Linked DNA regions of Homo sapiens: region 1 is linked to region 2. Evidence: fine-mapped expression QTL. Tissue or cell type: whole blood. Region 2 holds a variant in brackets; the other region holds the start of a gene. All regions are shown on one strand. Distances are between the middles of the regions.

Region 1 (4,690 bases), 30 kb after region 2:
AAAAGGAAAACAGAGAAGTACAAAATAGTCATAATGATGGCAGCTACCTTTAAAAAAGTATTATTTTGAGGTTTGATAGTGTAGACTATAGTCCTAGCTCCATCACTCATTGTAATCTTTATTATCTTAGTTTATGTACTTCTTAATAATAACACTCAAGCAACCCTATCACTTAGGCACTATTATCTACATTTACATATTAGTGCCTAGGTGACAGGGTTGAGTGTTACTATTAAGCACTTGCTACATTCCATATCCTACATGTACATAATTTCTCATCTTAACAACAACCTTGAAAGTAGGTTTCTTCATTATACAAATGAAGAAAAGTGACACTTGGGTTGATCATGCTCATATGGATTAAAGGCTGGCATAGGGATTTGGACTCCTGTCTTTCTGACATCTAAGCCCATGGCCTTCCTAATATTTCGTGTCTAATGGGGCAGGAACACTGAATGCAGGCAGAATGAAGGCATAATGAGATAAAGACATCTTTCTGACATTTCCTTTCTGGAAATGTCTGGTTGGTTGGCGCATATCTTGGCAGACCTGCCTGACACCAAATTGGCTCTTTCTAGAAGTGTGGTCATGAGTGTCACCAAGAGACTGTTCATGAAATCCTTCATGAATGTGTTTCCCATAGGGCAGGTGGAAAAACTAAAGCATGACTTTAACTTTGGAACTCCGAAAAAGTCAATAAAAAGACAAGCCAGTAAACAAAGGGGTGAGGGTGCAGAAGACTTTAACAGACCTTTCACAAAAAAATAAAAATTAAATTAAAAAATAAATGGCAAATAAGCACATGAACAGATGCTTAACATTTTTAGTTACCAGGGAAATGCAAATTAAAACCACAATGAGCAAACACTACATACATACCCAAGTGGTCAAAACTAAAAAGTACAAAAAATTAGAAACTTCAAATGCTGACCAGGATGTGGTACAATGGAGACTCATAGTTTATGGAAACATAAAATGATACATTTTGGAGAAAGGTCTGACAGTTTCTTATAAAATTAAACATACACCTGCTCTCTGACCCAGCAATTCCACTCTTAAATACCTGGCCAAAGGATATGAGAAATATACGTCTACAAAGGAGCTTGCACAGACAGCAGCCTTGTTAATAATAACCAAAAACTTTAAAAGTGCCCATCAAGAGTTGAATGGATAAATTAATAATACTACGCAGTAATAAAAAGAATTGTGGATACATGCAAGAACATGGATGATTCTCAAAAACATTCTTCCCATGAGAAAAAAAAAAGCCTTACACAGTATACATACTATATGATTTCATTTATATTTAGTTCTGGAACAGATTAATCTATTGTGGGAAAAAATCAGGGTACTAACTGCCTCTGGAAGGTGATAGAGGAGCAGGGATTGACTAGGAAAGGGTATTGCTAATTTTCTGGGGTTTTAGGAATGTTCTGTATCATGATAGGAGTTCGGGTTACATAGGTGTGTGCATTTGTCAAAACTCAGTGAATGTGTACTTTGGATTTGTGCATTTCACTGTATGTGAATTTTACATCAAAATGCAATCGAATACTGAACTCTAGTTAATTATATGCATGCTTAACTACTTAAAGGAAAGTGTACTAATGTCTGCAATTTACTTTGAAGTGCACCAAAACACAAGATGGAATGATGGATGTATAGACAAATATGTGGTAAAGTACAAGTATAGTATAATGTAAATAGTAGAATCTAGGTGGTGGAAAATAGGTTTATTGTAACAGGTGCTCATTCTTTCAATTTTGTTTGAACATTTTCGTAATAAAAGAACCACTTATTTGGGGGTTTTGCAGCAAATGGAGACACTAGAAGCTAAGAGGGGCAGGAGGTTCCTCTTACTTTGGGAAATGCAAATTAAAACCACAATGGTTTTCCCAAAAGTAATTGATCTTTTTCAGTCAATGTTTCCTCAACTATCAAATGGGTAAAATGGCAGTGAAGGAGCTTCATATTATTAAGCATTTCCTGGTGGGTGGAATACGCCATGAACTAGGTGCGGCCTCAAGCTGGTTACTCGCCCTGCCTACTCCCTCTCGTGTCCTCCCAGTACCCCCTTAGACCCACCAGCTCTGAGGGAATCTTCGCGACCTGCGCAGGCGGTCGCTCTGATAACCGCATCCCGGTTTCCGGGACGACAGCGGAAGTCACTTCTCACACGCCTTTCTTATTGGATACCGGCTTTTCATGGGGCCGAGCGCCGCTGGGTAGGCGGAAGTAGCCGCAGGCATGGCGGCGGCTATGCCGCTTGCTCTGCTCGTCCTGTTGCTCCTGGGGCCCGGCGGCTGGTGCCTTGCAGAACCCCCACGCGACAGCCTGCGGGAGGAACTTGTCATCACCCCGCTGCCTTCCGGGGACGTAGCCGCCACATTCCAGTTCCGCACGCGCTGGGATTCGGAGCTTCAGCGGGAAGGAGGTGAGGGCGCGAGATCTGACCAGGGAAAGATTTCCGTAGTGCCTGCTGGCTGGCCGGCCGTGGGATGAAGGCAAACTTTGGGGGCGGGGCCTAATTCCTGGGTAGAGTTCGGGATCCTGGGTGTGGACCCCGACGAGGTGGGGATCGTCACTCACCTGCTCCCGTTTCCCCAGTGTCCCATTACAGGCTCTTTCCCAAAGCCCTGGGGCAGCTGATCTCCAAGTATTCTCTACGGGAGCTGCACCTGTCATTCACACAAGGCTTTTGGAGGACCCGATACTGGGGGCCACCCTTCCTGCAGGCCCCATCAGGTGCAGAGCTGTGGGTCTGGTTCCAAGACACTGTCACTGAGTGAGTGCACACCTTGGGCCCTGTTGCAGGCCATGGAGGGAATGTGGCTGGGAGAGTGTTGTCATCCTGCCACTGCTCTTGGGGACAGCACTTCCAGTAGGCAGCGATTCCATGGGGGTAGAGCTGGCATTGGAAGTAAGAAATGTTACCACAGATGAATAAACTTCCCAATCCTAAAACTTTCAGACCTGAGGTAGCACATGCATATCCCTGGAGAGGCAAATAGCAAACAATTAATGCTTATTTGGAGGTAAGGCAGTAGAAAACTGGCAACTGGATAACCTTTTAAAAGGCATTCATTAATATTTTTTAAATGATAATAAATACCACGAAAGCCAACCATAACATATCTGTGGGTTACAACTGGCCAACAGGATGCTACATCACAGTGTTAGAGGAACTGCTTTTGTTTGGGAGGGGGCAGGTCTAGTTACTGTGCCTACTACAAACCGCTATTTCCCAGTGGCTGCTGTGGCTATCCTGTTTAGAATAGAACCTTTCTGTGCAGTGGTTGCAAACAGGTCTACATGGGCCACACAGGTAAGGAATGAATAAAGGTATTTTTAAAATTGACAAACACAGGAATGAGAAATATATCTCATTTTCCTCTTAATCCCACTATAAGAAATCAATAGTGCAAGTATGATATAACAAGTTTTAGGGCAATAAAAAGGAGCAGCAGGAATTGTGGCAGGCTAGAGAGTTTGTGTGACATTCTAACGAGGACAGCTCTGCCACTCAGCTTCTATGGATTGTTGCCATGTGGGAATAGAGGCCTAATGTGGTCAGAGTCAAATGTTTCTAAAAATTTTTTGTAGAAACAAGGTCTCACTATATTGCCCAGGCTGGTCTCGAACTCCTGGGTTCAAGCGATCCTCCTGCCTCAGCCTCCCAAAGTGTTGGGATTACAGGCAAGAGCCACCACACCTGGCCTCATTTTTCAAGAGATACCAGAAATCTGGAATTTAATGTGAAAATTGGCAAATTCAAATATCAGCAAGTAATTTAAAAATTTTTTGAGTGCTGTGCGGGTCAATGTTGTGCATACCAAATGAAGCATGTTTATGGTTTGAGTAGAGCTTTCCGGCTTCAAGTTTGCCATTTTTATTTGAGGCTTAAGGATTGGAGCAGTTGAAAAGCTCTGAACATAGAATTATCAAAAGCTCCTGGACAACACTAAGGAATAAGGAATAAGCAGTAACTCCCCAGCTTGCCAAGACTTTCTCTCTTGCCTCAACTCTGGCTCCCCTACCCTTTCCTGTCTACTCTGCTGTCACTGTCTTCCCTCAGCCCGTAATTGCCTGAAATGTGGAGCAAATGCTTAGAATTCTTTCTAGTGCTTATTAAGTTTTATGCTTTCTCTATTACTGAGAGCAAATCTCTTTTGATATTTCTCCAAGAAAAGAACATTAATTTAATTTGATGTTTTTATGAAATCCTAGAACAGTTGTTTTTCCCATGTTCAGTGAGCTTTTTTGGATATAAGACTTCTCACCATGATAGTAGAATCAGGACTTACCTTTATTCCCAGAGTATACACAGGGTAGTATGCATTGTTTTGCCCAGCCCAGCACATTCAAGGAAGATCAGTGAGCTCATTTCAGCTCTGATACATGAGGCGCTTTCCATGGTGTCAGGGGAAGTACATAGATGACCCAGACTGGTCCTTGTCCTCAAGTTGCTTACAGCCTAGTTAGGGAGAAAAGGTGGTCAGGACACGATGCTGCTGCCACCTAGCCATCTCCCAGGAGGGACCTAGTAAGATGCTTGGATGGTCAGAACCGTGACTGCACAGAGGAGACTGTGCTTAAGGAGGGCAGGAAAGGCTTCGTGGAGGGGAGGTAAGCACTGGAGCCGGATCATGAAGGTAGGCAGAAAGAAGTTAGCAAAGGCTTGCAAGGAAGG
Region 2 (8,187 bases):
TTATCCTATGGAATTGGATCTCTGTATTCCATTAAATAATAACTGCCCATTTTTACCTCCCCCAGCCCGTGGCAGCCATTGTTCTACTTCCTGTCCCTATAAATTTGACTACTCTAGGAACCTCATATAAGTGGACTAATACAATATTTGTCTTTTTTTTGTGACTGCCTTATTTCACTTAACATGTCTTCCATGTTGTAGCATGTGTCAGAATTTCCTTCTCTTGTCCGGGCACGGTGGCTCATGCCTGTAATCCTAGCACTTTGGGAGACCGAGGCAGGTGGATCACCTGAGGTCAGGAGTTCGAGACCAGCCTGGCCAACACGGTGAAGCCCCATCTCTACTAAAAGTACCAAAAATAGCCAGGCATGGTGACGGGCACCTATAATCCCAGCTACTTGGGAGGCTGAGGCAGGAGAATCACTTGAACTTGGAGGGTGGAGGTTGCAGTGAGCCAAGATTGTGCTACTTCACCCCAGCCTGGGCAAAAGAACAGCACTCTGTCTCAGAAAAAAAAAAAAAGAATTTCTTTTTAAGGCTGAATAATATTCCATTGTATGTATAGGCCACATTTTATTTCTCTGTTCATTCATCGATGGACATTTGAGTTTCTTCTGCCTGTTAGCTATTGTGAATAATGCTGCTGTGAACAAAGATATACAAACATCTCTTCAAGGCCTTGCTTTCAGCTTTTGTGTATATACCTAGAAGTGGAATTGTGGAACTGCCGAATCATATGGTAATTCCCTTTTTAATGTTTTGAGGAACCACCATATTGTTTTTCGCAGTGGCTATACCATTTTACATCCCCACCAACCATGTACAAGGATTCCAGTTTCCCTATATCCTTGCCAACACTTGGTATTTTCTGTTTCTTTGATAGTAGCCATCTTAATGGGTGGGAGTTCCACTCTTTTGTTTTATTTCCTCTCATACTTTGTTCTTTAATTTCTTTAGTTAGGTTTACTGGGATATATTTTATATACAGTAAAATTTACCTTTTTTAGTATACAGTTCTTTAAGTTTTGACAAATGCATACTAGTGTAGAATACCACAGTCAATATATGGAATGGCTTCATAACCCCCCTAAGTTCCCTCAAGCCACCTCTTTGTAGTTAACTCCTCTTCCCACTCCCAGCCCTGGCAACAAACTGATGTGTGTTTTCAGTCTTTATAGCTTTGCCTTTTCCAAAACACCATATAGGTGGAATCATACGGTATGCAGCCCTTTGAATCTGTATTTCTTTCACTTAAGATTTGCACATGTTGGGTATGTCAATAATTTGGGTTTTTTTCATTGTTAGGTAGTATTTCATTCTATAAATATGCCACAGTTTGTATGTGTAATCATTAAAGGACATCTGGGCTAGTTTCTGGTTTTCAGTGATTATGAATAAAGTTACTAAATACATTTGTGTACAGGTTTTTGTGGGAATACAAGTTTTTATTTCACTTGGATACATACTTAGGAGTGGGATTACTGGATCATATGGTAATTATATGTTTAACTTTAAAAGATACTGCCAGAATTTTCCAAAGTGGCTGTACCATTTTATATTTCCACCAGCAATATATTCAAGGTCTAGCTGACTCACATTCTTGGCAGTATTTGGTACTGTTAGATTTTTATTTGTTTGTTTTGTTTTTAGCCACTCTAGTAGGTATGTCATCATATCTTATAGTAGTGTTAGTTTGCATTTCCCTAATGACGAATAATGTTGAACATATTTTCATGTATTTATTTGCCATCTGTCTTTTTTGATGAAGTTTTTGTTCAAGTCTTTTGCCCATTTTTAGGTTGTTTCTTTTAAATATAATTGTGTTGAGTGTTCTTCACTAATTCAGGATCTCTTTATCAGATATATGACTTGCCAGTATTTTCCACTAGCCTGTGGTTTATCTTTTCGTTTTCTTAACTATCTATTTAAGAACAGATTCTTAATTTTGATGAAGTCCAATCACTTTAATCACTTTTTTTTTTTTTTTTTTGAGATGGAGTCTTGCTCTGTCACCCAGGCTGGAGTGCAGTGGCGCTCTCTTGGCTCACTGCCAGCTCCATCTCCTGGGTTCATGCCATTCTCCTGCCTCAGCCTCCTGAGTAGCTGGGATTACAGGCGCCCACCACCACACCCAGCTAATTTTTTGTATTTTTAGTAGAGACGGGGTTTCACCATGTTAGCCAGGATGGTCTCGATTTCCTGACCTCGTGATCCACCTGCCTTGGCCTCCCAAAGTGCTGGGATTACAGGCATGAGCCACCACACCTGGCCACTATCACTTTTTTTAAATGGGCTATGCTTTTGGTGTCATATCTAAGAAATATTTGCCTAACCTGAAGTCACAGAGGCTTATGCCTATATTTTCTTTTAAACATTTTATAGTTTTAGTTTTTTAAATTTAGATATTTGATCTATTTTTTAGTTAACTTGTATATAGTCTAAGGTGTGGATTAAGGTTCTTCTTTTGCTTATAGATATCCAATTATTCCAACAGGATTTTGTTTTGTTTTGTTCAGAGACAGAGTCTCTCTCTGTTGCCCAGGGTAGAGTGCAGTGTTGCACTCTTAGCTCACTGCATCCTCCGCCTCCTGGGTTCAAGTAATTCTCCTGCCTCAGCCTCCCAAGTAGCTGGGATTACAGATGTGTGCCAACACAGCTGGCTAATTTTTATATTTTTAGTAGAGACAGAGCTTCACCATGTTACCCGGCTGGTCTCGAACTCCTGACCTCAAGTGATCTGCCTGCCTCAGCCTCCCATCGTGTGAGCCACCATGCCCAGCCCCAACATGATTTTTTTGAAAAGACTACCTCTCTCCTTTGAATTTTAAAATCAACTTACTGATTTCTACATAAAATCCTACTAGGATTTTGATTCACCTTTGGATTCATTGTTCTGAGTCATTCCTTCCTTTTTCTGTGCATTTGCAGTTGAGTTTTTTTCTCAATCTGCTTCCTGCCTGTAGAATTTTGGGATGCAAAGGCCTCTTTTTACTTTTTAAGATTTTTTAAAAATTTGAAATGATTATAGAGTCAAAGATGTTGCAAAAATAGAAAGGTCCTGTGTACCTTTCTCCCAGTTTCCTCCAGAGGTAACACTGGACAAAGCTAGTACAATATCAAAAGCATAAAATGGGCAGTAGTACAATATACAAACCGTGTTCAGATTGTACCAGTTTTACATGCACTCATTTGTGTGTTTCATCACCATAAGGATCTCTCTTGTGCCATCTATACCTCCCTCCTCCATTCAGTACCTAATCCCTGGAAACCACTAATTTGTTTTTTGTTTTTTTGTTTTTGTTTTTGTTTTTGAGATGGAGTCTCTCTCTGTTGCCCAGGCTGGAGTGCAGTGGCACAATCTCGGTTCACTGCAACCTCCGCCTCCCAGGTTCAAGTGATTCTCCTGCCTCAGCCCCCTGAGTAGTGGGGACTACAGGCGTGTGCCACCATGCCTGGCTAATCTTTTGTATTTTTAGTGGAGGTGGGGTTTCACCATGTTAGCCAGGATGGTCTTGATCTCCCAACCTCAGGTGATCCACCCGCCTCAGCCTCCCAAAGTGCTGGGATTACAGGTGTGAGCCACCGTGCCCAGCCTGAAACCACTAATTTATTATCTACTCTATAATTGTTGTCATTTCAAGAATAGTATATGAATAAAAGCAAGTGAAGGTATTAAAAATGTTGTATGAGTGGAATCATACAGTGTGTGACCTTTTGAAGTTGGCTTTTTTCACTCAGCATAATGCTCTTGAGATCCAAGTTATTGCATGTATCAATAGTACTTTAAAAATCACAGAAAGTTTCAAAAAATATACATAGAGGTTTTGTGTACCCTTTGCTCATTTTCCTCCAATGGGTGGGAAAATCTTACATACCTTTGGTATAATATCAGAACCATGTATAAATTCAGGTAACCACCATCACAATCAAGTATAGAACTGTTCTGTTATCCCAAGGCTTCCTCATGCTATTCATAGCTACAGTCACCCCTCCTTCCTCTCACCCCAATCCCTAAAAGTCCCACTTCATCTCTATAATTTTGTCATTTTGAAAATATTATATACATGGAATGATATAGTATGTAACCTTTCAAGATTGGCTTTTGTACTGGCTTTTCCATATAATGCCCTTTATATCCACTTAAGTTGTATCAGTAGTTTTTCCCTTTTTTTGCTGAGTGCTATTACATATAACACAGTTTGGCCATTCACCCATTGAAGAATGTTTGTTTCCAATTTAGGGCTATTATGCAGGTTTTTGTCTCCACACATAATTTTCATTTCTCTGGAATAACCTTCAAGGAGTATGAATGCTGCCAAACAATTTTCCAGAACATCAGCAATGTTCATACATTGATAGACCTTCTCTGCATTTTGACTTGCTTTTAGAATGGTCACTATTTTATTTTAGCTGTTTTAATAGGTGTGTAATGATATCTTACCATAGTTTTAATTTACATTTCCCTAATGGCTATTGAAGTTTAATACATTTTAGGCCGGGTGCAGTGGTTCATGCCTATAATCCCAGCACTTTGGGAGGCTGAGGCGGGTGGATCACTTGAAGTCAGGAGTTCGAGACCAGCCTGGCCAACATGGTGAAACCCCCTCTCTACTAAAAATACAAAAATTAG[C/T]CGGGTGTGGTGGCATGCACCTGTAATCCCAGCTACTTGGGAGGCTGAGGGAGGAGAATTGCTTGAACCCAGGAGGTGGAGGTTGCAGGGAGCCAAGATCATGCCTCTGCACTCTAGCCTGGGCAACAGAGCAAGACTCTGTCTCAAAAACAAACAAACAAATGAACAAACATTTTAATATGCTTATCTGCCATCTCTGTATCCTCTTTGGTGAAATATCTGTTCACTTCCTTTGCCCATTTTCTAATTAGACTGTTTGGATGTTTGTTCTAGAAAAAGAGTCTTGCTCTGTCACCCAGGTTAGAGTGCAGTGGCATGATCATAGCTCACTGCAGCCTTGAAATCCTGGACCCAAGTGATCCTACCAAGTAGCTAGGACTACCGGCGCTTGCCACCATGCCCAGCTAATTTTTTTTCTTTCAAGACAGGGTCTTGCTGTGTTGCCCAGGCTGCTTTTGAATTCTCCTGGCCTCAAGCCATCTTCCCACCTCGGCTTCCAAAGCACTGGGCACAGGTGTGAGCCACTGTGCCCAACCTGTTTGTCTGTATTTTTACTTTTGAGTTTTGAAAGTTCTTTATATATTCTAGATATGAGTCCTGTGTAAGATGTGTGATTTGCAAGTATTTTCTTTCTAAATTTGTATGTCTTTTATTTCCTTTTCTTCCCTTATTGTACTAGCTAAGACTTCCAGCACTACATTGAATGAAAGTGGTGGGAACAGACATTCTTGCCTTATTTTTGATCTTGAGTGGATATATGACACATATAGTATATGTCACTAACAATGGAATACCAAAATATATGAGGCAAAAACTGGTAGAACTCCAAGGAGAAATAGACAAATCCCATTATAGTTGAAGACTTCAACGACCCTCTTTCAATAATTGATAAATCAAGTAGGCAGAAAATCAGTAAGTACATATTTTATCTGAATACCACCATCAATCAACTTGATCTACTGGCATTTATAGAGCACTCCATCCAACAATAATAGAATATACATTCTAATACAATAATAATAGAATACACATTCATATCTAGCTCACATGGAGTATTCAAGAGATAGTACATTCTGGGCCACGAAACACACTGGAACAAATGTAAAATGATAGACTCATAAAAAGTATGTTCTCAAACCACAATGGAATTAAACTAGAAACCCATAACAGAGAGAGCTGGAAAGTCCCCAAGGTATTTCTAGAATAAACAACACACTAGACTAGTAGGTAGCACATGGATCAAAAAAAAGTCTCAAGAGAAACTTAAAAATATTTTTAACTAAATTAAAATGAAAAATATAGTTTACCAAATTTGTGGGATGCAGCAAAAGCCATGCTTAGAGGAAAATTTATAGCATTAAATGCATATATTAGAGAAGAAGAAAGATCTAAAGTCAATCTAAGCTTCAGAAAGAAGAAACTAGAGAAATAAGAGCAATTTAAGCTTAAAGTAAGTAGAAGGAAATAATAAAAATCAAAGCAGAAATCAATGAAATTGAAAACCAGAAGATGATAGAGAAAATCAGTGAAACCAAAAGCTGTCTCTTTGAATTATCAATAAAATTAACAGATCTCTAGCCAGGTTAACCAATTTTTTTTAGAAAAAGAAAGATACAAATTACCAATATTAGAAATTTGTTTGTTTGTTTGTTTGTTTTTGAGATGGAGTCTCATTCTGTTGCCCAGGCTGGAGTGCAGTGGCGTGATCTTGGATCACTGCAACCTCCGCCTCCTGAGTTCAAGTGATTCTCCTGCCTCAGCCTCCCGAGTAGCTAGGATTACAGGCACATGCTACCACACCCGTCTAATTTTGTACTTTTAGTAGAGGCGGGGTTTCACCATTTTGGCCACGCTGGTCTCGAACACCTGACCTCAGGTGATCCACCCACCTTGGCCTCCTAAAGTATTGAGATTACAGGTGTGAGCCACTGCGTCCAGCCCACATGTATTATTTAGAAATGTGGTGGGATTTTTGGATTAATAGAAGTGTATTTAAGCAGGAATACATAAAATCGTCATTGCTAGACTTAATATGAGATGTTAAATGTTTGATCCAATTTTTCTTCCTGGATAAGCTTTTCTTTCCTATCCCTACCGGATCCGATTCCACATAGAGCTACTGGATGAGTATTTGATAATGGGTCTGAAATTGGGATAGACATGTGCTGATCTTACACAAGTCCAACAAATTAAGCCAAGATGTTTGATGAGCCCTCGATGAATCATCATTGGTTAGGGTCATTGTGCTGATTAAGTACCCCTGTTTAAACCCAGATTTATGGCCAAATGCTCAGGTTGCAGTTTGTGGAGGTATGTCATATTCAGCTGGATTGAGGGTCATGGGCAGAGGGGCCAGGTGTGATGGAGTATAGTTTGGGAGAGTCATCTTGGTGACCCAGTGCACAACTGCGCCTCTTGACTCATGTATTATTCAGAAATGAGGTGTTTAATTTCCATATGTTTGGAGATTTACCTATTATCTTTTTGTTATTGATTTCTAGTTTGATTTCATTGTGATCTCAGAACACATGCTGTGCGATTTTGATTTTCAAAAATTCCTTGAGGCCGGGAGCAGTGGTTCATGCCTGTAATCCCAAGTCTCTTGGATGCCACGGTAGGAGGATCACTTGAGGATAGGAGTTGAAGGCTGCAGTAAGCCATGATCGGCACCACTGCACTCCGGCCTGGGCAATAGAGCAAGATGCTGTCTCTTTAAAAAAATTTTTTTTAGTTGACTTTTATTCTGTGACTTAAGATATAGTCTTGGTGAGTGTTCCATAAGCATTTCAAAAGAATGTGAATCTTGTTATTGTTATGTGAAGTATTGTCTAAATATTAATTAGATTCTTTTGATTGATGGCTTTTTAAAGTTCTTATACATCCTTGCTGCTTTCCTGTCTAGTGTTTCTTTTTTTTTTTTTTTGAGACAGAGTCTTGCTCTGTCGTCCAGGGTGGAGTGCAGTGGCACAATCTCGGCTCACTGCAGCCTCCGCCTCCCGGGTTCAAGCAATTCTCCTGCCTTAGCCTCCCGAGTAGCTGGGATTACAGGCGCCCGCCACCACACCCGGCTAATTTTTATATTTAGTAGAGACAGGGTTTCACCATGTTGGCCAGGCTGGTCTTGAACTCCTGACCTTAGGTGATCCACCCGCCTTGGCCTCCCAAAATGTTGGGATTACAGGTGTGAGCCACCATGCCCACCCTTCTGTCTAGTATTTCTATCAAGTGTTGAGAGAGATGTGTTGAAGTCTCCAACTTTAATAGTAGATGTCTATTTTTTTTTTCAGTTCTACCAATTTTTGTTTCATAGATTTTTAAGATCTGTTGTTTGGTATGTACACATGTATGATTGCTATGTCTTCTTTGTGATTTGACCCATTTAATATCTTTTTTTGGCCCTGGTGATTTTCTTTGCTCAGCAGTCTATTTCATCTGATATTGAAATTGCTAACTCTGCTTTCTTTTAATTAATCTTTGTATGGTGTATCTTTTTTCATCCTTTTATGTTCAGTCTACCTATGTCATATTTGAAGTGAGTTTCTTGTAGAGAGCTTATT

The links. PIP is the estimated chance that this variant, and not a neighbour inherited with it, causes the effect.
Region 1: PIGT starts here. The variant in region 2 is fine-mapped to the expression of PIGT in whole blood (INTERVAL, PIP above 0.99). The same link has a PIP of 0.9 or more in rectum.

The regions. Positions count from the first base shown.
Region 1 is chr20:45,413,910-45,418,599 of GRCh38, forward strand. PIGT (phosphatidylinositol glycan anchor biosynthesis class T) reads left to right here and starts at 2,232. Exons shown (of 12, transcript NM_015937.6): 1 at 2,232-2,434; 2 at 2,608-2,785. The coding sequence starts at 2,248. LOC107985405 (a long non-coding RNA gene) reads right to left here and starts at 4,474. Exons shown (of 2, transcript XR_001754640.2): 1 at 4,305-4,474; 2 at 1-2,908.
Region 2 is chr20:45,381,690-45,389,876 of GRCh38, forward strand. All of the region lies in intron 3 of SYS1-DBNDD2 (SYS1-DBNDD2 readthrough (NMD candidate)), which reads left to right. It also overlaps the pseudogene NDUFB4P10. Among named protein-coding and RNA genes, the nearest start is that of TP53TG5, 7.5 kb to the left of the region's middle. The variant C/T (reference allele first, on the strand shown) is at 4,631.